3 linked regions of the Homo sapiens genome follow. The protein of the gene in region 1 purifies or fractionates together with the protein of each later gene. This does not show direct contact. Each region holds a gene or a part of one and is shown on either strand. Other genes may lie near its edges.

Region 1 (8,362 bases):
CATACCTTTTTCCCAGCTTCCCTAACATGAGCATCTTACACATCCACAGCATGTCTGTCAAAACCAAGAAAGTAACATTGGTGCAATATATTAACTGCAGGCTTTATTCAGCTTTCACTCGTTTTTCTAATATGTCCTTTTTCTATCCCAGGATCCAATCCAGGACACCGCATTGCTTTTAGTTCTCACACTTCCTTAGTCTCTTCCAGTCTAGCGTTTTCTCAGCCTTGCTTTTCTTGACTTTGACATACTTGAGGAGCAGTGGTCAGGTATTTTGTGGATGTCCATCCTTTGGGGTTTTATTTATGTTTTCTCATGATTTGAGTGGGGTTATGGATTTCGGGGAAAGAAAACCACAGAGGTGAGGTGCCCTTCTTGTCATGTCCTATCAGGGGGACCTAACATGACTCATCCCTGATGAGGTTAACCTGGATCACTTGGCTAAGATAGAGTCCGCTGGGTTTCCTCACCAGAAAGTCGCCATTTTCCCCTTTCTGCATTCTATCTGTGGGAAGCAAGTCAGTCAGTCGAGCCCCTACTCAAAGGGAGGAGAATTAAGCTCCATTTCCTGGAGGGGGATTTTCTACATAGATTACTTAGAATTCTTCTGAGAGACAGACTTGTTTCTTGTCCTCAGATATTTATTTATTCAATCATTTATTTATATCAGTATGTCCTCATATATATTTATTTTATTCTGTGTGTTAGAATCCAGTACTATCGTTGTTTATTTTGTTGTGCGATTGTCTCAGTTTAGGCCATCGGGGGGTTTTCTCAGTTTGGTTCCTGTGTCTCTTCGACATGTGCCTCCCCCACCCTCAGCATTTCCTTATTCTTTGGCACCAACAAGATACCCCAAGCTCATTTTGCATTTTCCCTGACTCAGTTCTGCAATCAGCTTCTTTTCTAAGGAGTCCTGGTTTCTTTTACTGGAGAATAAAATGGTATTAGAAGCAAGTCTGTGTATTGAGAATGCCCATAGCTACTGGAGTGCCACTGTTTCTAGGTAGATGGACAGATTTATATTAATGTCTCCAACTCTAATCCAGTGTCACAGAGTTCAATTCTAGTCTTTCTCTTTTGCTTGTTTTTAACTTCTCTCTCTGACAGTGTGAAATCTGGCTCCCATCATCTGCAATGTTTTTCTTCATTTGCTTAATGCTAGTTTACATGTAGTTTCAGAATTGCTAACTCTTACCCCAGGGAGAAGGGAATTCACCAACTGAAGTACAGTGTTTATGTACAGATTGTTTTGTCTTTAGACTTTAGATATTCAGTCAAAACACTGTTTTCTAAAGTTACCTGGATCCGCATCTCTTTTCCCACGCCTTCAGTGAGGTTATGTTATACGTTTGTAATACAGTTAGGTCTTTTTCTCACAGACTAAATTCTATCCTGGTATTCCCCAACATCCTGGATGATTTTTTTAAAGTTTGCATACAATGAAGTTCCCCCTTTGTGGTGTACGGGTCTACAGATTTTGACAAATTCATGAAGCCATGTTTCTACTACCCCAGTATCATAGAGAACAGTTCCAATGACCTAAAATAAAATAGAATGTGTGTGGTTCCTTTGTAGTCAATTTCTCCTCTAACCCTTGACAATCACTGAACTGTTTTCCATCCCTATAAATTTTGCCTTTTCCATAATGTCGTATATATGGAATTATATATAATACGTATATATAATAGTAATCTTTTGGGTCTGCCTTCTTTTATTTAGCAAAATGCATTTAAGATTCATCCTCATTGTTGCGGGAATCAAATAGCTCATTCCTTTCATTGCTGAGTAGTATTCCATTGTATGGATAGATCATAGTTTTTGAATATATTTGCCTGCTGAAGGTCATCTTTGTTGCTTCCAGTTTTCATTGATTATGAATAAAGCTGCTATAAACATGGGTTAGCTTGTTTTTGTGTGAATGTAAGTTTTTTATTCACTTGAATAAATACATAGGAGTATAATTGTCGGTTTATGTGATAAGTCCATGTTTAATTTTATGAGAAACTGACTAACTGTTTTCCAAAGTGACTGTACCATTTGTATTTCCACCAGTGATAAATTGGAGTTCTTACAGTTCTGTGTCTTCATCATTTGGTTTCATCTAATTGATTTTAGCAATTCTAATTAGTGAGAAGTGATATCTAATTGTGGTTTTATTTACTCTTTCCTGGTGACAATGATATTGATCATCTTTTCATATGCTTGTCATTTGTATATCTTCTTTGAAATGTCTGCTTAAATCATTTGCCCTTTTTTTAATTGGGTTATATGCTTGCTTATAGTTGAATTCTAAGAGTCCTTTATATATTCTGAATACAAGGCTTTCATCTCATCAGACATTGATTTGTAAATATTTCTTCCAATCTGTAGCTAATCTTTTCATTCCCTTAACAGTGTCTTTCAAAGAGCAAAAGTTTTAAATTTTGATCAAATCCAACTAATCAGTTTTTTTTTCTTCCTTTCATGGATTGTGCTTTTGATGTTATATCTAAAATTTCATTGCCAAACCCAAGGTCCTGCAGATTTTTTATATTTAACTTAAAGAATTTCATCGTTTCACACTTTTTACATTTAGGCTTTTGATCCATCTTGAATTAATTTTTGTATGAGATATAAGGTATGTATTCTTCAATATGCCTTATGCCTTGTTTTATTTTTGTTGTTTTCGTTGTTTTGCACATAGACAGTCTTATTTTAGTACCATGTGTTAAATGGAACATCATCTTTCCATTGAATTTAATTTGCATCTTTATAAAAAGCTACTTGACTACATATGTGTAACACTATTTCTAGGCTCTCTATTTTGTTACACTGTCCTATGTGTCTGTTTCCACAAATATCATCCTGTCTTGATTACTACAGCTTTATATTAAGTTCTAAAATCAAGCAATATGAGTCCTTCAATTTTATTATTCTTCTGAATAGTTTTGCCTACTCTAGTCCCTTTGCCTTTTCATATAAGTTTTAGGACCCTCTTATTGATATTTTCTAAACAATTTTTCTGGGAGTTTAAATGGGATTCCACTAAATCTATGTATTAAATCTTAATAATATTGACTCTTCAAATTCATGAATATGGTGTGTCTTTTTCATTTACTCAGGTCTTCTTTAATTTTCCGTCTGTCTTATAGTTGTCAGTATATATATCCTGCACATATTTTGTTAGGTTTAAATTTAAGTACTTCATTTGCATTTGTGTACTATTGTAAATGGATTTTTTTTTATTTCAAACTCTTATTTTCTATTCCTAGTATATAAGATTGTAAATGGCTTTTGTATATTTACGTCATATCTGAAAACTTGCTAAGCAAGCATTTTTGAAAAAGAAAAAGACAATCCGTCTCTATTTTCTCACTGGTAAGATCCCTATTTCAAAGCATTTTGAAAAAGATGTTTGAGGGAAAAACCTATACATTTTCTCATATTATAGACTGTTCACAAGAAGTCCACTAATGGCTTCTAAAGATAAAAAAGACCCTCAAGCAGCTTGAAATAACGAAAGTTGAAATTGAAACTCTGCTGAAAAATTATGTTTCATCTCTAATATTGAGAAATATTGAAACATTTGATAACACAGTGTGCTATCTTCCTGATACAAGCCCATGTGAAAGGCAATTTGGCAAATATCTAGCAAAATTACAAAATTATACCCTTTGATCCAGCAAGATATTCTTGTAAAGTTACAAATGACATATGTACAAAATTACTGGTTGTAATATGTTTACAATAGAAGAATAAAATAAGTGTGCATCAATATGAAATTGGCTAAGTATGCTATGTTGTATCTGTATAATGCAATACTATATGAACTTCAAAATAGATTTCAACAAAACCTTTGCATTATTGGCAGATGGAATTTAAGAAAATATAACGATTAGTTAGGTGCAGCCAACAATAAACTTCTACTTAGATCTACATATTCTAATGAGAATTCATTTCAAATGTGTCACTAAATCTGAACATTGAAATAAATAGACCTTGAAAACAGCCCTTTAGTTATTGATTCACAAAGTGTTAAGCCAAATTTTTCAAAAATAATAAAATCATGTTATTACAAAAATATTTTATTAATAATAATTTGACTATAGCAAATGTGCTGTTAATAAATTTTTAATGTTAATTTCACCTCTATGTCATTAATTTTCAAATTTTAGTTTTATGTATGTTGATAATTTATGTAGCATATTAGTACTGAGGTACAGAAGTATGATTTATAACTCAATGTACATCTAAAGAGGATACATGCTTAACTTTCTTTATTAATGGAATTTGTGATAAAGTTTGCAGACGCCTCAGAGAAGAGCTCTCACTTGGACAGGAGGCCCTGGCCAAGTTGTGTAATGAGGAGGGTTGTTGAGGGGAAAAGACAAAAAACAAGAGGTATTAAGCCCCAGAAGACAGTTATCACCTGCCTCAGAACACAAGCATGCAGGATGATACAGCTTTTAGTGCCAAGAAGTAGAATTCTAGCATCTCTAGGTGGTGAGAAACAAAGGATTAAGAATTTTTCTTTCTCTAACACTCTAAAGAAATGTTCTTGAGCTAGGAAAGGATTACTCGCGCCTCGTTAGAATCAGACATGGCTTCAGGGGATGCAGGACGCTCCCCTGAGCTGCCTGTCACCGACTAAGTGGAGCAGTGTTTCTTCCGCAGACTCAACTGAGAAGTCAGCCTCTGGGGCAGGCACCAGGAATCTGCCTTTTCAGTAAGACCTAAATTACTCTTATGAGAACCAGCAATGGCAGGTTCTTGAAGGATGTAGAACATGATGCTTGGGGTTATCATTGCTGCGGGTTTTCTTTGGACTTGTTTGAGATCAGTAAAATTCTAAGGCAGGGGATGGAAACCAACTCTATTTGTAAGCTCTGTATCTTTTTTTCTTTTTTCTTTTCTTTTTTTTTTTTTTTTTTAGACAGGGTCTCTCACTCTGCTGCCCAGGCTGGAGTGCAGTGTCACAATCATGGCTCACTATGGCCTCAAACTCCCAGCCTCAAGTGATCCTCCCACCTCAGCCTCCCCAGTAGCTGGGACCACAGGCACACACCACCATGCCTGGCTAATTTTTGTATATTTTGTAGAGGCAGGGTCTACCTTTGCTGCCCAGGCTAGTCTCAAACTCCTGGCTTCAAGCAATCTGCTCACCTCAGCCTCCCAAAGTGCTTGGATTACAGGTATCACCCACCATGCCTGGCCTTAGCTCTGCATCTTAAACCTCGTTTGTCTGTCCCTCACAGCTTAACACAGTGCTGTACACAGCGGACTGGCATGCTCTCTCTGAAAAGGGCCAGATAATAATATGTTAGGCTTTGTGGTCTATACGGCCTCAAACACAATTACTGAACTCTGCCACTGTAGTTGGAAATCAGCCACCAATGATATATTACCAAATGGGTGTAGCTATGTTTCAATAAAACTTTACATACAAAAGCGGGCCTGGTTTGCCCACGCTTGCTATTCACGTTTGTAATGTACATGCCCCTCATGCAATGCAGTTCCTTACCTTATTGCTTAGTCACCTTAAAGCCCTGCTTGTTACTTGGTGCGGTGGCCTTGCTGATGACTACTTATCCCTGTTTTGGGCCTAGCCTTTCAATGCAGGAATCCAGCCCCAGGGAGAGAAACTAATGACTGGAGAAGTTTCTAGGCAAGTGCAGAAAATGACACGGGATGAACATATGTAAGAACATCAAGTTCAGGATCCCGAGTAGTTGTCAGAAATTTCACTTCACCCCATCCCAGCAAGGCTGTTGTATTTGGGGAAGACATTATTTCAAGAGGGGAAGAGATTGTGGAAAATCAGTAGGCAGCAGGAGACAGCTCTCTTGATCCTACTCCCATTTCAGATGATTCCGCAGGGGTCTCTTTATTGCCCCTCTGCTCCCCCAGGTGCTTTCCTCCTTTCATGAGGCTTTGTCCTCCATCCCTCTTGCTCCCCAGTCAGGTGCCAGACTTTTAGGAGGCCCCCCGGAGCACTGGTGGTGAAGCTTAGCAAAGCAATGCATTTGCAATCTAAGATAAAACACTCATGTTTTGGGCTGGGCATGGTGGCTCACACCTGTTATCCCAGCACTTTGGGAGGCCGAGGTGGGCAGATCACAAGGTCAGGAGTTTGAAATGAGCCTGACCAACAGTGTGAAACCTCATCTATACTAGAAACACAAAAATTAGCCAGGTGTGGTGGTGGGCGCCTGTAATCCCAGCTACTCAGGAGGCTGAGGCAGGAGAATCGCTTGAACCTGGGAGGCAGAGTTTGGAGTGAGCCCAGATGGCGCCACTGCACTCCAGCCTGGACAACAGAGTGAGATTCCATCTCAAAAAATAAATAAATAAATAAAAGCACTGATACTTTGGAAGCAAAGCTCCCACATTTGGAACTGAATCAAGAAAAGAAAATGAAAGAGTAGGTGCTTAATCTTCACTCTTCGATAAACCCCCAAACAATAACCCTTAAAGTTTTCCATACAGGCCCACGTGTCTTTCATCTGTGGCTGAAATGGGCTGTCTGTTTCTACACATCCAGTTGATCCTTGAACAAATGTAGGGGTCACGGGCACCGACGCCTGCTCAGTTGAAAATCTGCATGTAACTTTTGACTCCCCAGAAACTTAACGACTCCATAGCCTACTGCTGACTGGAAGCCTTACTGATAACATAAATAGCCAATAAACACATATTTTTTATGTTCTATGTCTTCTGTACTGGATTCTTACAATAAAGTAAGCTAGAGAAATGAAATGTTATTCAGAAAAGAATAAGGAAGAGAAGATACATTTACTATTTGTTAAGTGGAAGTGGATCATCATAAAGGGCTTCATCCTGGTTGTCTTCACACTGAGCAGGCTGAGGTGGAGGAGGAAGAGGAGGGGTTGGTCTTGCTGTCTCGGGGTGGCAGAGGCAGAAGAAAATTCACGGATAAATGGACCCACGCAGTTCAAACCCATGTTGTTCAAGGGTCAGCAGTATAGGGAATGTTTCACCCCTGTATTCTATTTTTCATTCATAGAATTAAAATAGAAATCCTAAAAATGCCCCCTGTGGTTTTCACCTGGATGTGTATTAAGGAGGGTTAATTTTTTTGCTTGCTTAACCCTGAGAACACAGCATTGACTTGAAAGTTACTGTATGGAAAAGCATTAAGGAAACAGCCTTCAGTTGCCTTCCTTCCCTGGACCGTAGAGTGGCCGGTTTTCCCTGATGGTGGCACTGAATGACCAAAGTGACAGGCAGCATCTAGGCAGGGCTGTGCACAGTCACCACCGCTGGATTTCAAAGTTCCTGAACCAAGATCGTCTGACCTGTTCTCCGGCTCTTTGGCAGGTTCTGTCTCCGGCAGGCTTTGAGGATGAAGGCTGCGGGCATTCTGACCCTCATTGGCTGCCTGGTCACAGGCGCCGAGTCCAAAATCTACACTCGTTGCAAACTGGCAAAAATATTCTCGAGGGCTGGCCTGGACAATTACTGGGGCTTCAGCCTTGGAAACTGTGAGACTCTTTCTTTCCTGCTCTCCTTCTGTCCTTGACCTTTCCCCTGAGATGTTGAAGGTCCTGGCCACACTCCCTGCTGTGTCTTCCCAACTACCCCTGCTCTGCCCTCACCGCACTCAGGGGTGGCTGCTAGCCTAACTGTGGCTCTCTGGGTCTCCTCTCCTTCCTCCCCTGCCCCTCATTTCCTTATTCCTGGAGTCCTGTCCTTATGACACTAGCCAGGGAAGGGGAAAATAATGCCACCTCTGCTGGCATTGTGGGGAGTGGGGGGACCTGACTGTTGGTCTAGATTAGGCTCAGCCCCTGACTGGGTGTACAGCTTCAGGTGTGCCATCCCAGCCCCCGATGTGCCCCTCGTGTGCCCCCTGGGCGCATGCCCGCCCTGCCCTGCCCAAGGTGTATTGGGAGGAAGCAGTCAGGTAACAAGGATAAGGAAACTCGCCCTCAGACCAAGCTTAGAGCAAAAGATGCACTTCCTTTGCTGGCGTTTCTGGCTTTCCCCCCTCCAGGGATCTGCATGGCATATTATGAGAGCGGCTACAACACCACAGCCCAGACGGTCCTGGATGACGGCAGCATCGACTATGGCATCTTCCAGATCAACAGCTTCGCGTGGTGCAGACGCGGAAAGCTGAAGGAGAACAACCACTGCCATGTCGCCTGCTCAGGTGAGGCTCTGACTTTCCAGTGATGCCATCCTCAGGACTAGGCGAGAAAGCCGACAATGGGATCACCAACCATGTCTTGCTTTAACTAAAATTTGGAGTTCAGGCTTGCAAATAGGTCTGTTCCAGATTGGTAAATTATGCAACAGTTTCCAAGGTGACACTCAGGATCCTGTGGCTGACTTCTCCAAAGATGACTTATTCCTTGTA
Region 2 (8,025 bases), on another chromosome or scaffold:
CCCAGGAGGCAGAGGTTGCAGTGAGCCAAGATCACGCCACTGCACTCCAGCCTGGGCGACAGAGGGAGACTCTGTCTCAAAAAAAAAAAAAAAAAAAAAAAGCTAAAACCTGAAAACAACCCCAATGTACATCAGCAAGTGAGTGTAAAAAGGGTGAAGTGCTGATTCATGGGTGAACGCCACAGGTCGCACACTGAAAAAGGAGCCAGACGTAAAAGACTGCATGTTCTGTGGTTCCATTTATATGACATTTAAAAGAGGCCAAAATCGTGATGAAAATCATAGACTGCAGAGGAGCACGCAGAAACTCGGGGCGATGGAAATGCTCTACTGTTTGATTGCAGAGGCAGGTACAAGGTGAATATGTTTGGCCACGTTCCTCAAACTGCATACTTAAAATGGGTACGTTTTATTGCATGTAAATCATACTCAATACATTTGATTTAAAGTTAAAAAGAAAATGTTTGTGGTTTTATGAAGCTGATCTCCAGAGGCTAACACTTCTCTCTCTAATATGAATGCAATGGCCCAGCTCTCACCAATTTCCACAGTACAGAAGAAAACACCAGTGCAGAGTTCCGCACAGACACGGAGGGACTGGGAGGAAGAGGGAAGGGATACTGAGACCAAGTCCGGCCTCTGCTGAGTGGCCTGGGCCAAGTCATTTTATGTCTGACTTTCAGTCCATCTACAAAAGAAGAACAAACTAGGCCTTTCTGCTAACCAGAGCTACCGAGAGCACAAAAATGAGAAAACACAGCTAAGTGGTTGATAAAATAGTAAAGCACTTTCTTTAGAATCTGCCCCGGCCTTACTTATCTCTCTGTCTTCATCAGGCTCAAATATTTGTTACACAAATATGTGTTATTTTTATTATTACTCATGCTTTCTACCAAGAGCCAGTTATCAAGTCAAAAAAAAAAAAACTGTCTATTTGCAAATTGATTTTAAAATAACAATACCAATAGCTAACATGTTGTTAAAAGTGATGTTCTAAGGGCTTTGCACATATTACTTTGTTTAATCCTCACATGAACTGGGATGAAACTGGGAAAAGTAGCTACAGACTTGCACAAGTCTACATAGCTAGCAGTGTTTAGAGCTGGCCTCAGAACTCAGGCTGTTGTTGGAGAGCCCCCCTTCCTTGCCACTCTGCTCTGCTGGCCTCTACAGTATATGTTTAGGCAGAATTGGTAGGTTTCACTAGACAGTCAAATTTCTATTTCCTTTACTGCTGAGGGAAGTAGCTTCTTCGTGTCCAAATAACCAAGCTCTTGAGCACTAAATCAAGTGACATGACCTTCAATAAGAAGCGCAAGAATGTTTCAAGTTTATTTATTTATGCTACTGACACAAAGACCAGAAACTACCTACTTCTTTTCCAGCTTTACAGACACTATATAAGGCAAATAATTCACTGCAGTTCCCATCGCTGTAGTCAACAAAAATGTGGAAAGTTTCTGTTCCTGGTGTCAATATTTGCTCTCTGCATGTCCTGGGCTGCCTGGAACTTACACACAGTGGTACTACATTAAAACCTCCATCGTGAGACACATTTTCACGCGGTACCTCCAGGACTATGGTTTATTTGCTTATACAATTACTTCATTTGTGTTCAGTTAACTATATCTGACAGTATATCCAAATAAAAATATGTAATTAACGGTCACATTGATGAGAATGGAATGTTGATTTATATCCCAGGAGACCTGAATGAAAACTGAGCCCAAACTTAGCCTTTGAAGTAAAGTAACTTCCCTGCAGAGCCGGTCCTAGAGCACAGAGGCTATCAGCTCACCCTGTTCTCTTCCTTCCCGTCTCTAAGCCCTCTGTTGGCCCTTCCCAGGTAGACAGGAAATCCACGCACGTATACCAGTCCAATATTCCCAAACTGGGTTTCAAGTTCTTAGAAGACAGGGATCATATCTCATGTACCTTCTGTATTCCTCATAAGGCTCAAATATTTGTTGCATAGGTATTTGACTCTAGAATCCAAACGATAACTCACTTGACTCAACTGACTTAAGAGTTAAATCAATTCGTGGCTGGGCACAGTGGCTCACGCCTGTAATCCCAGCACTTTGGGAAGCCAAGCTGGGTGGATCACCTGAGGTCAGGAGACCAGCCTGGCCAACATGGCAAAACCCTGTCTCTACTAAATACAAAAAGTAGCTGGGTGTGGTGGCTGGCACCTATCATCCCAGCTACTTGAGAGGCTGAGGCAGAGACAATTGCTTGAACCCAGGAGGTGGAGGTTGCAGTGAGTCAAGATTGCCCCACTGCACTCCAGCCTGGCCAACAGTGAGACTCCGTCTCAAAAAAAAAAAAAAAAAAGAGTTAAGTTAACTCAAAGAAATTATTTCAGAAGAAAATGATAATAAATCTCACTATGATCAGTTTAAGAACCTGCTTGGGGCTTTACATGCAAAATATATCCAGGCTCAGCCAGGTGCAGTGGCTGATGCCTGTAATCCCAACACTTTAGGTGGCCAAGGCAGGATAATATTTTGAGACCAGGAGTTCAAGATCAGCTTGCGCAACATACCAAGAAGCCATCTGTACAAAAATTTAAAAATTAGCCAGGTATGGTAGTATACACCTGTAGTCCCAGCTACTCAGGAGGCTGAGGTGGGAGGATCTCTTAAGCCCAGGAGGCTGAGGCTGCAGTGAACTATGATCACACCACTGTACTCCAGCCCTCCAGCCTGGATGACAGAGTGAGATCTCATCTCAAAATTTAAAAATAAATAAATAAATAATTTAAAAAAGTAAATAGTTATCCAGGCTCTAACTTGTCAAGTCCCCTCTGCCCTACCTACACCCCACCCTGCCCCAATCACCATCAGCTCTCACCTGCGTTATTGCAACAGGCTCCAAACCAGTCTCCCTGCTTCTGCTCTCAGGCCCACACAATCCATTTTCAACCCCAAAGCCACGGTTATTCTATTAAAAGTTGGATCAGTGGCTTCCTATCTCGAGTCCTTCTGATGGCCCGTGACCAGGACTCCACTGATCTCCTCTTCTATCACAGTCCCCCTCGGCGACCCTCTCCAGCCTCAACAGTCTCCTTGCCGTTCATCCACCGCACCCAGCAGGCTCCTGCTGCTGGGCCTCTGCACCACCATCCCTCAGCTGGGGAATCCCAGGGCAGTCCCACGCTTCCTTCAGATCTCTGCTTGACGCTCACCTCCTCAGCAAGCCTTCCCTAACCACCCTGAGAAAGTAGATCCCAGTCTCTACCCTGCACTCCCCATACCCTGGTTTTCTTCATAGCAGCATTTATCCCATCCCTACCTCAAATCTTTTATTTATTATTTTTAGAGTAGTGTCTCACTGTGTCACCCAGGCTGGAGTGCAGTGGTGCAATCGCAGAATCCCTGAACTGCTGGGCTCAAGCCATCCTCCTGCCTCAGCCTCCCAAAATGTCAGGATTACAGGCGTGAGCCACCATGCCTGGCCTCAAATAGCTCATATACACCAGTTAATCCACTCACTGTCTTCCTGCACTGACTTAAAAGGGAGGTCCTCGTCCTGCCTCACAGCGGGTATTCTCAAGGCTTACAGTAGCATCTGGCACTCAGTACTTGCTCAAGAAAGAGGTGATGTTCTAACAAAAACCAGACAAACTCTGATTGCCTAATTTCTGAAACTTGGGGACAGGTGAAGGATGATGTATAATACTGCTCTCTCTACTGGTCGGTATGTTTTAAAACCCCCTTGGAAAACGACGAAAGAAAGCGCTCGGCCGGGCGTGGCGGCTCAGGCCTGTAATCATAATTGCTTGAACTCAGGAAACAGAGGCTGCAATGAGATCATATCACTGCACTCCAGCCTGAGTGACAGAGTGAGACTCTGCCTGAAAGGAAAAAAAAAAAAAGTGCTCAGAATCTCTGATAAATGACCACAACGACGAGACAGCATACAGAGAACAATGACAATAACCAAGAGGAAATCAGAGCAAGGAAACCCTCCCTGTTAACAGGGCCTGTGCACAGAGGCAGGCGAGGGCCGCCATTCCATCAGAGCAGAAAGCCCATCTGAGACTGTTCCCATTTGGGTCAATTCAATGCCACACATACATATCCATGAAAGAGTGAAATCATTCCGTGAGGTGAAGTTTATTAAGAAACTCAACAGTCTCTGTCCCTGCTTCCCTTTCTCACCTCCGCCCTTCTCCATGATTCTTTTTTTTTTTTTTTCTTTGAGACAGGATCTTGCTCTGTCACCCAGGCTAGAGTGGAGTGTGATGGCTCGATCTCAGCTCACTAAAATCTCCACCTCCTGGGCTCAAGTGAAGTGATCCTCCCACCTCAGCCTCCCAAGGAGCTGAGACAGACACAGGCCACCATGTCTGGCTAATTTTTGTATTTTCAGTAGAGACAGGGTTTCGCCATGTTGCCCAGGCTGGTCTTGAACTCCTGGACTCAAGCAATCCTCCTGCCTCGGCCTCCTGAAGTGCTGGGATTACAGGTGCGAACCACCACGCCCTACCCGCTCCATAATTCTTTTTAGCTAATTCTTTTAATGTCTGCCTTCAGAGTGAACCTTGGTTGTTCAGCTTGGGGCATTAGCGACTGACTTCCCAAGGCGACAGGCGAAAATGCAGCGCTCTCCTCCCCACACCTTCTCTGCCCAGGTGCATCATAATTTCAATTAGAGCAGCAGTCAGTGTTTACATAAATTACTATCATTGCGGCGAGGCTATCCACAGCTGCGCCTTGTAGTACACCATAATTATTTTTCGTTTCCCGCACGATGGTTTATTTTCCCTGGAACTAATAACAGCCTTGTGTTTTCATTTGCTTTGTTTAGTACTTATCACTAATCCCGCCCCAACTCTGCCAACTGTATCAACTCCTCTCCAGATGCTGCAGCATGTCAGGTGTCCTGCTAATTTCATCTTCTCCCAAAGAATCTCCTCTTGGAGCCTCTGACCAGCTGGGGTCAGGACATGTCTGCTCTTCACACCAGCACCTGGCTGGGATTTCCCTTCAGCAGGTTCTTCTCACCTCTCACCTGGGGGAAATCCTGTTCCCACCAGCCAGTCTCTCTCAGTCTAGACTTACTGCCTCATCTGGGGAGACTACATCTGCCAATCACCTCCTTAAAGCATGAGGAACAAATCTGGGAGCAAGTCTGAAGTTGTCTTTACCCTACCCTCCCTTGCCTGAGTGTAGACTTCCAGGCTGCAAATGCATCCTTCAGAATTTCTCAAGCAAGGCCCTCCCGTCTCCTGCCACCCAGTGCTGCTTTGAAAAAGCCCAAGCCCTTCTGCTTCTTTTCATTTTAATTGTAGTTAGTTCTTCTGCCTTTTTCCACATGTTCTAACCTTCTGCCTCTTGACCTGTGATGACCTATTTGTGATTTGTTTTTACTTTCTCCTCTTGTTCTGAGATTTCACAACAGTATGTCCTGGAGAGGGTACGCAAGGATCTTTTTTTTTTTTTTTTTTTTTTTTTTTTGAGACGGAGTCTCACCCTTGTTGCCCGGGCTGGAGTGCAATGGCATGATCTCCACTTACCGTTACCTCCGCCTCCCAGGTTCAAGCAATTCTCCTGTCTCAGCCTCCTGGGCAGCTGGGATTACAGGCACCTGCCACCATACCTGGCTAATTTTTGTATTAGCCAGGGTTTCACTATGTTGGCCAGGCTGGTCTCAAACTCCTGGCCTCAAGTGATCCGTCCACCTCGGCCACCCAAAGTGCTGGGATTACAGGCGTGAGCCACAGCGCCTGGCCTCTGAACTCTCACTATCCAAATTCTGGGGTCAACAGCTGCAGACATGCTTTCAAATAAATCCTTCCCCTCCCAAGCTCTCACTAGTCTTTATCTGAAACTCAGCCTCTCTCACTATCCAAGTTTGCTGCCCAGACTTTTAATTTTTTAAATTTTATTTTTGAGACGGAGTCTCATTCTATTGCCCAGGCTGGAGTGCAGTGGCACGATCTGGGCTCACAGCAACCCCCGCCTCCTGGGTTCAAGCAATTCTCCTGCCTCAGCCTCCTGAGTATGGGATTACAGGCACCCACCACCATGCTTGGCTAATTTTTGTATTTTTAGTAGAGATGGGGTTTCATCATGATGGCCAGGCTGGTCTCGAACTCCTGACCTCAGTGATTCACCTACCTCCTAAATTGCTGGGATTACAGGCATGAGCCACCACACCCAGCCTTCCCAAGCTTTTAATATCCAAGCTGAGAAGTGAAGAGGCTATGAAAGTGAAGGATACCTGCATTTTCACCCGTGGTACTGGCCACTGGGTGAGCCTCTTTAACCCAGAAAGTTTGGGTTCTAGGAAATTATTTTGTGAATTTCATCCTGTTTTCCCTATTTTTTTCTTCTGGAAACTTTTTAAAATGTATTTTATTTTATTTTTTAGAGATGGGGTCTTGCTCTGTCACCCAGGCTGGATGGCAGTGGCATGATCACAGCTCACTGCAGCCTCAAACTCCTGGGCTCAAGTGATCCTCCCACCTCAGCCTCCCAAGTAGCTGGGACTACAGGTGCACACCACCACACCTGGCTAATTTTTAAATTTTGTTGTAGAGATGGGGGTCTTGCTATGTTGCCCAGGCTGGTCTTGAACTCCTGGCCTCAAACGATCCTCTCACCTCAGCTTTGAAGCTCTTACTATTCAGCTGCTGACTTCCTGATCTGATCCTTTCCGTTTCTTTTTTCTCTCATTTGCCACCTCGTTGCTTTTCTGTTCTACTTTCTGAGGGAGTTCCTCAACTTTATCTTTCACCCACTAACTGATTTTCTTATTTCTGCTTTTATTTTTTTTTTTTACATCCGAGAGTTCTCTTTTTGGATATTCGAATACTCCTTTTGGTGGCTTTTTTTTAGAGCTTCCTGTTCTTGCCTCATGTTCGCGATATTTTCGCTCACCTCCGCGTGGACATTAATGACAGCCTGCTTTCTAAGGCTCCTTCCTGCACGCTCTCTGGTTTCCCAGTGTGTATTCTGGTCTCAATCTCCTGTAGCAGAGGTTTTCTTCAGATGCCCTTGGTTATCTGCTCATATTTAAGGGATGGGGATTTTTAAAGCTTGATGCCTTGAACACTGGGAGGGGGTTATTAATGACGGGCTTCGTTAGCAAGGGATCCAGCTGGGTCTGCTGACTGGGGACCTCCTGATGTCATTAATTTTAGGTCTTTTCTCTTGGGCTACTCAGATTCCCCAAAGACACATCCATCCTCCTGTCTACAGGGAAAAGCCCCAGCTGGTCATGTTCTGGGAGCCAAAGGGTCCCTGTTCGCTTCCTCCTCCTGTGCCCTGTTCAGCACTGCGCCCCCACCCCATACTCAACCGCGCCCCCACCCCGTACTCAACTGTGCCCCCACCCCGTACTCAACTGTGCCCCCACCCCGTACTCAACTGTGCCCCCACCCCATACTCAACTGTTCCCCCACCCCGTACTCAACTGTGCCCCCACCCCATACTCAACTGTGCCCCCACCCCGTACTCAACTGTACCTGTCTCCCATTCTTCTCTGAAATATCTTTAAAGTTTCTAAACAGTTACAGAAACCACCACCTTAACAGCAGGAAGTAATAAGTTGGAGAGTCAATTATCTCCAGGCACATCTGTGGGCCAGGGCTGGAGAACCACAGTCCCGCCTGCAGCCACAGACCCACTAAGCAAGTGTGAAACTAACAGCTACTCTCCGAAAAGAAAGACAACTTAAGAATCGAAACTCAAGATGTACGGTTTTTTTAAATGACAAACAAGCCGCATGTGTTTCAGTATCATCAATAACCCGTCTTTTCCCACTGATGGCTCCTTCAGCCCCTGACCCACACTAGAAGAGAATCACCTGCCAGCCTCAATGACTGTGCGTAGTCAAGGAACTGCACGCCCAAGGTCAGCCAACCAACGGGCCTCTCTTCAGCTCTGGATCCCTTCCCACTGGGGTTCCTGGGGATTCCCTCCTTGTACAGGCTGTCTCTTCTCCACCAGGTCACATCTCCTCCAGGATGGCCACCAATACCGCCAACTCTGCAGGTCTAAAACCCACGTGTGTTTG
Region 3 (8,025 bases), on another chromosome or scaffold:
CTATCTCACTCTTGCCCTTGTCATTTCAGACCTTGTACGTGGCGGTTGCTGGGAGCACTCTGGGGCTCAGTCTTTAGTCCTTCCCACTCTAGCTTCATTCTGCCACCTCTGTACTCTTCCCATGCAATGTCCTATTCAGCAGTAATGGAAGGGGTGTGCAAGAAGAATATGTGGGCAAATGGAAAGGTGCTGCTTTAACGTGTAAGCATTCTGGCACTTGGAGCAGTTACACAGTTACAAATAATGGGCCAAATGGAAGTTCGCTCTACAAATTAGCATTCACTCTCTAGGTTGTTCTGGAGATTCTGTGCCTGGCTGATCAGCTCTCCAGCCATGAGATACCAATTCTGGGTGTCCATGAGGCTGATACAGGAGTTCTGCCCTGAATTGCCCAAGCTGGTCTTAAGTAGCACCTGACCAGTCAGGAGTTTCAGACTCTGGGCTCACCCCAACTCATTCTCTCCTGAAAACCTGACACTCATCTCAGAATGCTAAATTAGATTTTGCTCTAAATCTCCTGTTCTGGATGCCAATTCATAGTCTCATCTCCTGCTGATGATACATTTTTATGAATTTTCTGCTCATGCTTCCTTAGGACCACCGCCAGAGTCATGCCTTTGTAAAGCGGTGTTTCTTTCCTCCAAGAAAAGGTTATCTCATAATCCAAGTAGAGAAGATAATTGTTTTCCTCTCTCCTCCCTTGTGATATTGCCACCATACTCTCTCACTTCCCCTTCCTAAATTTACTCCCCATCATTCACCCATGACACCATTCATTCATTCAACAAACATTTCTGGAGTGCTTGTTACATGCAAGGCACTGTTGAAGAATGAAAGGCGTGGCTCACAAAGGTCCTACTTTCAAGGAGCTTGGAGTCTCACAGAGCTGCCTAGAACCTTTCACAGTTCATCCTTTCTAGCTTTTAGTAGCGAAATGTTACTAGTTTGGAATGTTCTCAAAGAGCTTGAGTCATTCTCATACAAATATTACACAATGTGAAGGCTCTGTTATTTGCTTGGTGACTATGGTGTGCCATGCATCAGAAGAGGACATGTCTTTTACTCTCGAATAATGAAATTGTGCCTCCAATTCAAAACAACATGGCATGCACGCTTATGTTTCCGCCAATAAGGCAGAAACAGAAGAGAAACAAAAGCAAGCTGTGTGTAGCCTACACAAAATAGTTAAGCTGATACTTGAACACTAAATTATTTTAGAGCCATGTGTTCATGGCCTTGTCATGTGCTGATATGGTAAAAATAATTGCCTGAGCTACCAGAAAAGAACCCCTCAAAGAGAAATCCCTGAAATACTGCACCAGGAATAGTGCCTCTGTCTGCTGTGTCACACACAGCAAGGAGAACCAGCATGTATCTGTTAAGTCTGATTTCACCCCAACCTGGGCTTTCTCCTAATTTGCCTTATTCAAATGAATCACTTACTTTCCCGAAGCACTAACAGAATAAAAAACCATACCTAGGACATGGGATTGTCTGTTACAGGAACGGGCAAAGACCGGAGTAGGAGGAAAGTGTGGTGGGTTTTCTTTAAAGCATTTATGGCAATGTTGAATTAAAAGGCCGTAGTACATTGATCCTGTTTCGCAGCATCCTTGGTCAGGGATGGATGTCTCAGTGCCACATAAACTAGTTGGGAACAGACACCTCCCTGGGGTGAAGGGCATCACTAATGTGCTCTGATACGCCTGCCAGGCCCCTCCTTAACTCGGGTTTCAGTCTCCCCCTTTGTAGGAGGGAGTTCTCTGTGGCTGAGGAGGCAGAGGCTCCCGTGGTTTTCAGAGGATTTTACTTAAGCACACTGAAATCCCCAGGTAAAAAGGGCTCTGGAAAAGCAAAGTACAATTAGAGGCCAAGGAGCATACGCTGTCAAGTGAAATCATGAGCAAATATATGTGTTGTGTCGATTAGCAGAATTTTTAATGGAATCTGGGTGTCAGCAGTTCATACTCTGCTGTCTGGGGACTCAGGAAAAGCCCTGTAGGAGAAAGCTGGGGCTGGGGGAGGGAACCAAAGGCCCGTACCTACTTCTTCTCTCTGAGATCTGCCATGGTACTCTACCCAGTCCTCTCATCTCCATCTGCTAACCTAATTGTTCAACTCCTGTCCTGATACTAAAGTACTTGTTTTCTAAGACCAGCCTTACAGAAGGAGCTGTGTACAGTTGTTGACACTATTAAAGGGATCTACGGAAATAACTGTAATACTCTGGGGTTCTCAGTGGTTCTTTGCTGAATGAGGTAGCTCAGTTGTGAGTTGATGCATGTGATGTGTGCTGTCTGCCACTCAAAGCTATAGTTTTCCCTTTTTTATCTGCGAGATTATAAAAATACCAGTATTTCCCCCCATTTTATAAAAATGATTTTAGAAAAAAATACACATAGGTCTCCTCCATTAAACTTCTGTTCCATCTTGTAAATTGTTGTGAACTCTGACTTCTAGATTCAGTCTTTTGACTTTAGCACCTTTGAACGTGTAAGCCGCCTCAGGCTCACTCAGGATGTTGACGTTCCGCACAGTGCAGTAGTGTCTATTCACGTTCTTCTCCACCCGGTCCGGGTGCCTCTTGGGCACTTCTACCTTGGTATTCAGAGGATATTCTTCCAAAATGTCCTCTGCGGGCTTCTTCTTCCTCTGTTTCTGGCATTTCCTGTTGATAAAACAAGCCACCAAAAACACCAGAAGTAGAAGCATGATTGCAGCCAGGGCACTGCCAATGGACGCCCCAGTCTGTGACAGGGACGCAGCTACCGCCAACTCTTGCATCTCCAGATTCAGGGACTTCATATTGGTGCCATTCTTGACTTGGTCTCCTTCATTGTCATAGATGAGGGAATCATCAAGGATCAGCTGGCCATCGGGCTCTACCAGGTCCCTTCGGTTGCGTCTGAGTGGAGCTGTGAGAGAGCGCTGGACCCGGGGCCCTGAGATGGTGTCAGGGCCAATGATGTAGATGACCTGGAGATACCACTGGTGTCCTGCTTCCACCTGCAGGGGGACAAACCGAACATGTTGTTGTTGCCCACAGACCACCTCTGAAGAAAGGAAATGGAAGGATAATTGCCACTATATGCCTTGATAGATAACTGATTTCCAGAAAAGCATTAGCAATGGTTGGTGTCTACTAATACATAGAGAACTGAACCAGATATGGGTTCTATTTTATTTCCAAATTAAGATGATCTTGAGTCAGCTATTCGGATTCTTTTTTGTTTCCCTATGTGTACATGGAATAGCCTAAGAAATTATCTTTCATGGTCTCTTTAGCTAAGTGAATGCTTATATTTGTCTGTCTTTATTGATAGCAGTGAAATAATAGCATTAAAAACCACATTTATTTACAGTGACCTTCAATTATGTGTTATGCCAATTTACTATTTATTGGTGAACTTCAGCGAAAATGGAGTCATTCAACAAAATATTCACTAAACATATACTCTGTGCATAATACACAGATACGTGACAAACATTTTCTAAACACCTTCTCAATCAGGCTATATCATCAAGTATTTTATCTCCCCCTCATCTTCCTCCATTAAAATGCTTCATGGTTTCGAAATAACTTCTGAAGCATGATAATAGTTCTGAAGGGTCATAGATTAATATTTAGAGACAAAAAAAGTGAAATTTCATCTTGAAAGTTCATGTTCATTGCTAAGACTTAAGGTATTTGTGTTTATCAAATAGTAATTCTTGCTATTCTAAATTGCTGTATTGTATTATGATTTTTTAAATGTTTTTCATATGTCCGTGAAAATCAGCTGGGCTAGCATAGAACCAAAAAGGGATGCAATATAAAAGAACTTAGGAAAAACTGGAGTGTCATATGCAGCCATGATGTGCACAATGACAAGTGACTATATGCAAAGTCAATAATTGTATAATTGTTTTGGTCTACTGGGGATACATGTGAAAATTTTGGGTGGGTGATAAGCTTAACAATAAGAAAAGATCTGCCAGCAAGAATGGCAGAATGTTGAAGAATCCAGAGATGTTGCAGTCCTCCTTCTTTTTTTTTTTTTTTTCAAGCTTTAAAGTAGACTTGGTCTTAAGCTTCTGTTCTTCTCACCAAACTCACCTTATAGAGTGCATCTACTTTTAGAGTAAATCCATCCACACCTGGCATGTTACTGACCACATGGAAATCAGGCAACTCAGAGGCAAAGTGAGCCTCAAAAGGCACATCATGGAAGTACTTATCAGTTACCTCTGGCTGATTGCGGTCCTAGGATTTCAGAAAAAAGAAATGCAAGATTTAGAAAGATGGTTCCACTATATTGGTAGGTGGCAGTGACTGGGAGGAGAAAAGTACTCATCACTCCTGGCTTTAGGTTGAGTTGAGAGAGTATGTGCTGTGAAGCCCTCTCCATAAGTCAGTGGCTGCCTGATATGGTTTGGCTGTGTCCCCACCAAATCTTATCTTGAATTACAGTTCCCATAATCCCCATGTGTCATGGGAGGGACCCAATAGGAAGTAATTGAATCACGGTGACAGTTACCTCTATGATGTTCTTGTGATAGTGAGTGGGTTCTCATGAGATCTGATTTTTTTTTTTTTTTTTTTTAGATGGAGTCTTGCTCTGTCGCCCAGGCTGGAGTGCAGTGGCGCGATCTCAGCTCACTGCTGGCTCCACCTCCTGGGTTCATGCCATTCTCCTGCCTCAGCCTCCGGAGTAGCTGGGACTACAGGAGCCTGCCACCACACCAGGCTAATTTTTTTGTATTTTTAGTAAAGACAGAGTTTCACTGTGTTAGCTAGGATGGTCTCAATCTCCTGACCTCGTGATCCGCCCACCTCGGCCTCCCAAAGTGCTGGGATTACAGGCTTGAGCCACCGCGCCCGGACCTCTGATGGTTTTTTAAGAGGCTTTTTCCCCTCTGCTCGGCACTTCTTGCTGCCCCTATGTGAAGAAGGATGTATTTGCTTCCCCTTCTGCTATGATTGTAAGAGGCCTCCCCAGCCATGCTGAACTGTAAGTCAATGAAACCTCTTTCCTTTATAAATTACCCAGTTACAGGCATGTCATTAGCAACATGAGAACAGACTAATACACTAACTCTGGGAACCCACTGTCCTTTTCAAAAGGACATGTGGTGGCTTTTGTGATCTCAAAATGCAAAAAGTGGGATATTCTAGCCCAATACTTCTCAAGTTATTTGGTCTCAGGACCCTTTACACACTTACAAATCAAGGACCCCAGAGAGTTTTTGTTTATGTGACTTATATCTATCGACATTTACTCGGTTAAAAATTAAACCTGAAAAAATTTTAAGTGTTTACTTATTAATTCATTTTAAACTGACAATAAGAAACTCATTACATGTTAACTTAAGTAAGATATTTTTTAGTGAAAATACCTAAATTCATTCCCTTCCTCAATAAAGAGAGCTGGCAATGTTTTACATTTTTGTAATCTCAGGGAAAAAACTGGATTCTCATAACTGCTTCTGAATTCCATCAGTTGTGATATGCTGTTTTGTCTAAAGTGTATGAAGAAAATCTGGCCTCATAAAGCTATGTAGTTAATAGCTTTTTCAAACAATTATGGCTTTTTTTTTTCTTTTTTTTTTTTGAGATAGGGTCTTGCTCTGTTGCCCAGGCTGGAGTGCAGTGGTGCAATCTTGGCTCACTGCATCCTTGACCTCCCAGTCTCAAGTGATTTTCTCACCTCAGCCTCCCAAGTAGCTGTGACTACAAGTGCATGCCACCAAGCCCAGCTAATTTTCAAATATTTTTTTGTAGATATGGGGTCTCCTTATGTTTCTCAGGCTTGTCTCAAACTCCTAAGCTTAAGTGATTCTCCCACCTCAGTGTCCCAAAATGTTGGGATTACAGGCATGAGCCACCACGCCCTGCCTCTTTTTTGATACTAAATCAAAACTTGGTGAGTGGTTATTTTTTAAAGATTCATTACAATGTGGAATCTGAAATTTTATTGATAAACTTTTTAAACTCTCTAAACTCATGAGGGAATAAGTATGAAAAAAAGAGTCATCATCATATTATTTTGAAAGTAATTTTGACTCTGTAGACTCCCTGAAAGAGTATGGGGACACTCCAGGTCTCTGAACCATACTCTGAGAAACATTGGCCGAGAGTTTCCTTTTCTGAGGACATCAATGGAAGTTTGTCTTGTTACTCATCGTAACTACCACCTATGTACTAGTATTTAGCTGATCTGAAAGAAACAACAACACAAACATATATAGAGAAGAAAATATCAAGAGTGAGCTCTATCTACTTTAGGCAGAAGTCATAGCTGAGGAAATCTGCTCAAGTGTCTGCTCTTTAACACTAATAGTGAGAACTTAGCATACCAACAGCAGGAATCTGTGTTTTAGGTGTTTGTTTGGCTGAATGCATCCATACTGGGGCCCTTCATTGTAGATTGTCCCCGTGGGATCAAAGAAAGGCACATAACCATCCTTGCCCGTACAAAGATAGACTTTCTCCAGCTGGAGTTTGTAAGCAGAATTAAGATTTTGTTCTGGATTCCAAAGTACTCGGCCATAAAGGATTTGACCTGAAAAGATTGAAAGGTATTAATTAGGTCAGACTTTAAGATGAAAGAAAAACAAATGTCAAGGGTTGAAAGGGGTTAAACATGCTCCCTTAAGAGTGAAAAGCACTTTTCTATGAAGAGCTCCATGATTCCATGTGCCCCTAAAATACTCATTCATTTATTGCTTCGTTTTTATTCTTATTTTCTTTTTTTCTCTGAGTTTTCTTGCTAGGGAACATTTATGCCTTCTTTTTTTCAATAAGCATTAATTAAGCATTTAAGGGAAGCAAAGTATTCTGTTATGCACAGGGGATACCAAGGTGTGTGAGATGCAGTTGAGAGGATGGAAACAAACTCACAGTGATTGACTAAAATAGGCTCATATTTATCAAACTCATACTATTTTCCAGGTACTGTACCAAGTCCTCTCATGTAATAACTCATGGAGTGCTCACAATTTTGCAGATGAGAAACCTGAGGCACTGAGTGGGGCTAAGTGATTTGCTGAAGGTCACAAAGCAAGCAAACGGTGAGGGTGGGATTCCAAGTCAAGGTACTATGCTCTCAAACCAAACCACCACAATACTTTATTAATCACCCAAATGCTATACTGTTACATTCCACAATAGAGGAAGGTATGTCATGTTAAGAGAGCATGAAACCAGGTACAGAAATCTGCCTAGGGAATGGTATGGAAGGTTTCAAGAGACATGATATTTGAGCAGTATCCTGAAACACAAGTAGGCATTTGTCAGACAGTGCATTTGGGGTGGGAGTGAGAGGCAGGAGAGAACACTCTAGGCAAAAAAAAAAAAAAAAAAAAATCCATGTACAAAATACTGAATGCTTCAAGGATGTAAGCCCTGGTGTAGGCCGTTTCCTATGTGTCGGCTATGGCACCAAGCTCTTTACATGCAACTAACTTACTTAATCCTCCCAAGAGCCCAAAAGATAGCTTCAATTATTATTCCCATTTTTAAGTAACTTATCCAAGGTTCCACAGCAATGATGCAGTGGGAGGAGGATTTTGGAATTAGCACAAATCTGGCTAATTCCAAATGCTCATCCCAAACATTTACTATGTGGTGCTAAGTAAGTCAGTGTGACAAGAGTGGAGGGTGTGTAGAAGCTCTGGCAGGAGAGGCTCCTGGGGACATAGACAAACCGTGCTGAGGAGGCTGGACTTGAATATATAAGTAATAAGAAACACTGGAGGGTTTTAAGCGGAAAGGTAGTAACACACTTGGGCCTTAGAAACATGGCAAATGGGTCAAGGACAAAGAGACTTAAGTCACAGAGACCTGGTAGGGGCTATTTTAATCCTCTAGTGAGAGATAGGCACCTAAAATATAGCTGTGAGGCAAGAGGATGAACTCAAGAAATGTCTAGGAGTCAGACTCCACTCATCTTAATGATAGATGGGACGTAGGATGTAGGAAGGGGAAGTTGAGGATAACCCTGAGATTTTTGGTTGGGGCACATAGAGGATGGTGACGCAGTCAGC

The links. The genes of interacting proteins can lie anywhere in the genome.
Region 2: the proteins of LYZL1 (region 1) and CHST12 purify together in Homo sapiens (affinity purification with mass spectrometry; 2 studies listed by BioGRID and IntAct, with this or other methods). This does not show direct contact.
Region 3: the proteins of LYZL1 (region 1) and FRAS1 purify together in Homo sapiens (affinity purification with mass spectrometry; 2 studies listed by BioGRID and IntAct, with this or other methods). This does not show direct contact.

Annotation. Positions count from the first base shown.
Region 1 is NC_000010.11:29,284,523-29,292,884, forward strand, and holds the start of LYZL1 (lysozyme-like protein 1 precursor), read left to right. Parts: upstream 1-4,547; 5' UTR 4,548-4,595; coding exon of another isoform or gene 4,596-4,708; intron 4,709-7,320; coding exon of another isoform or gene 7,321-7,345; coding exon 7,346-7,484; intron 7,485-7,996; coding exon 7,997-8,155; intron 8,156-8,362.
Region 2 is NC_000007.14:2,405,800-2,413,824, reverse strand, and holds part of CHST12 (carbohydrate sulfotransferase 12), read right to left. Parts: intron 1-8,025. UniProt on the Homo sapiens protein: Catalyzes the transfer of sulfate to position 4 of the N-acetylgalactosamine (GalNAc) residue of chondroitin and desulfated dermatan sulfate.
Region 3 is NC_000004.12:78,535,512-78,543,536, reverse strand, and holds part of FRAS1 (extracellular matrix organizing protein FRAS1 isoform 1 precursor), read right to left. Parts: intron 6,543-8,025; coding exon 6,337-6,542; intron 4,244-6,336; coding exon 4,097-4,243; intron 3,007-4,096; coding exon 2,413-3,006; 3' UTR 1-2,412. UniProt on the Homo sapiens protein: Involved in extracellular matrix organization. Required for the regulation of epidermal-basement membrane adhesion responsible for proper organogenesis during embryonic development. Involved in brain organization and function.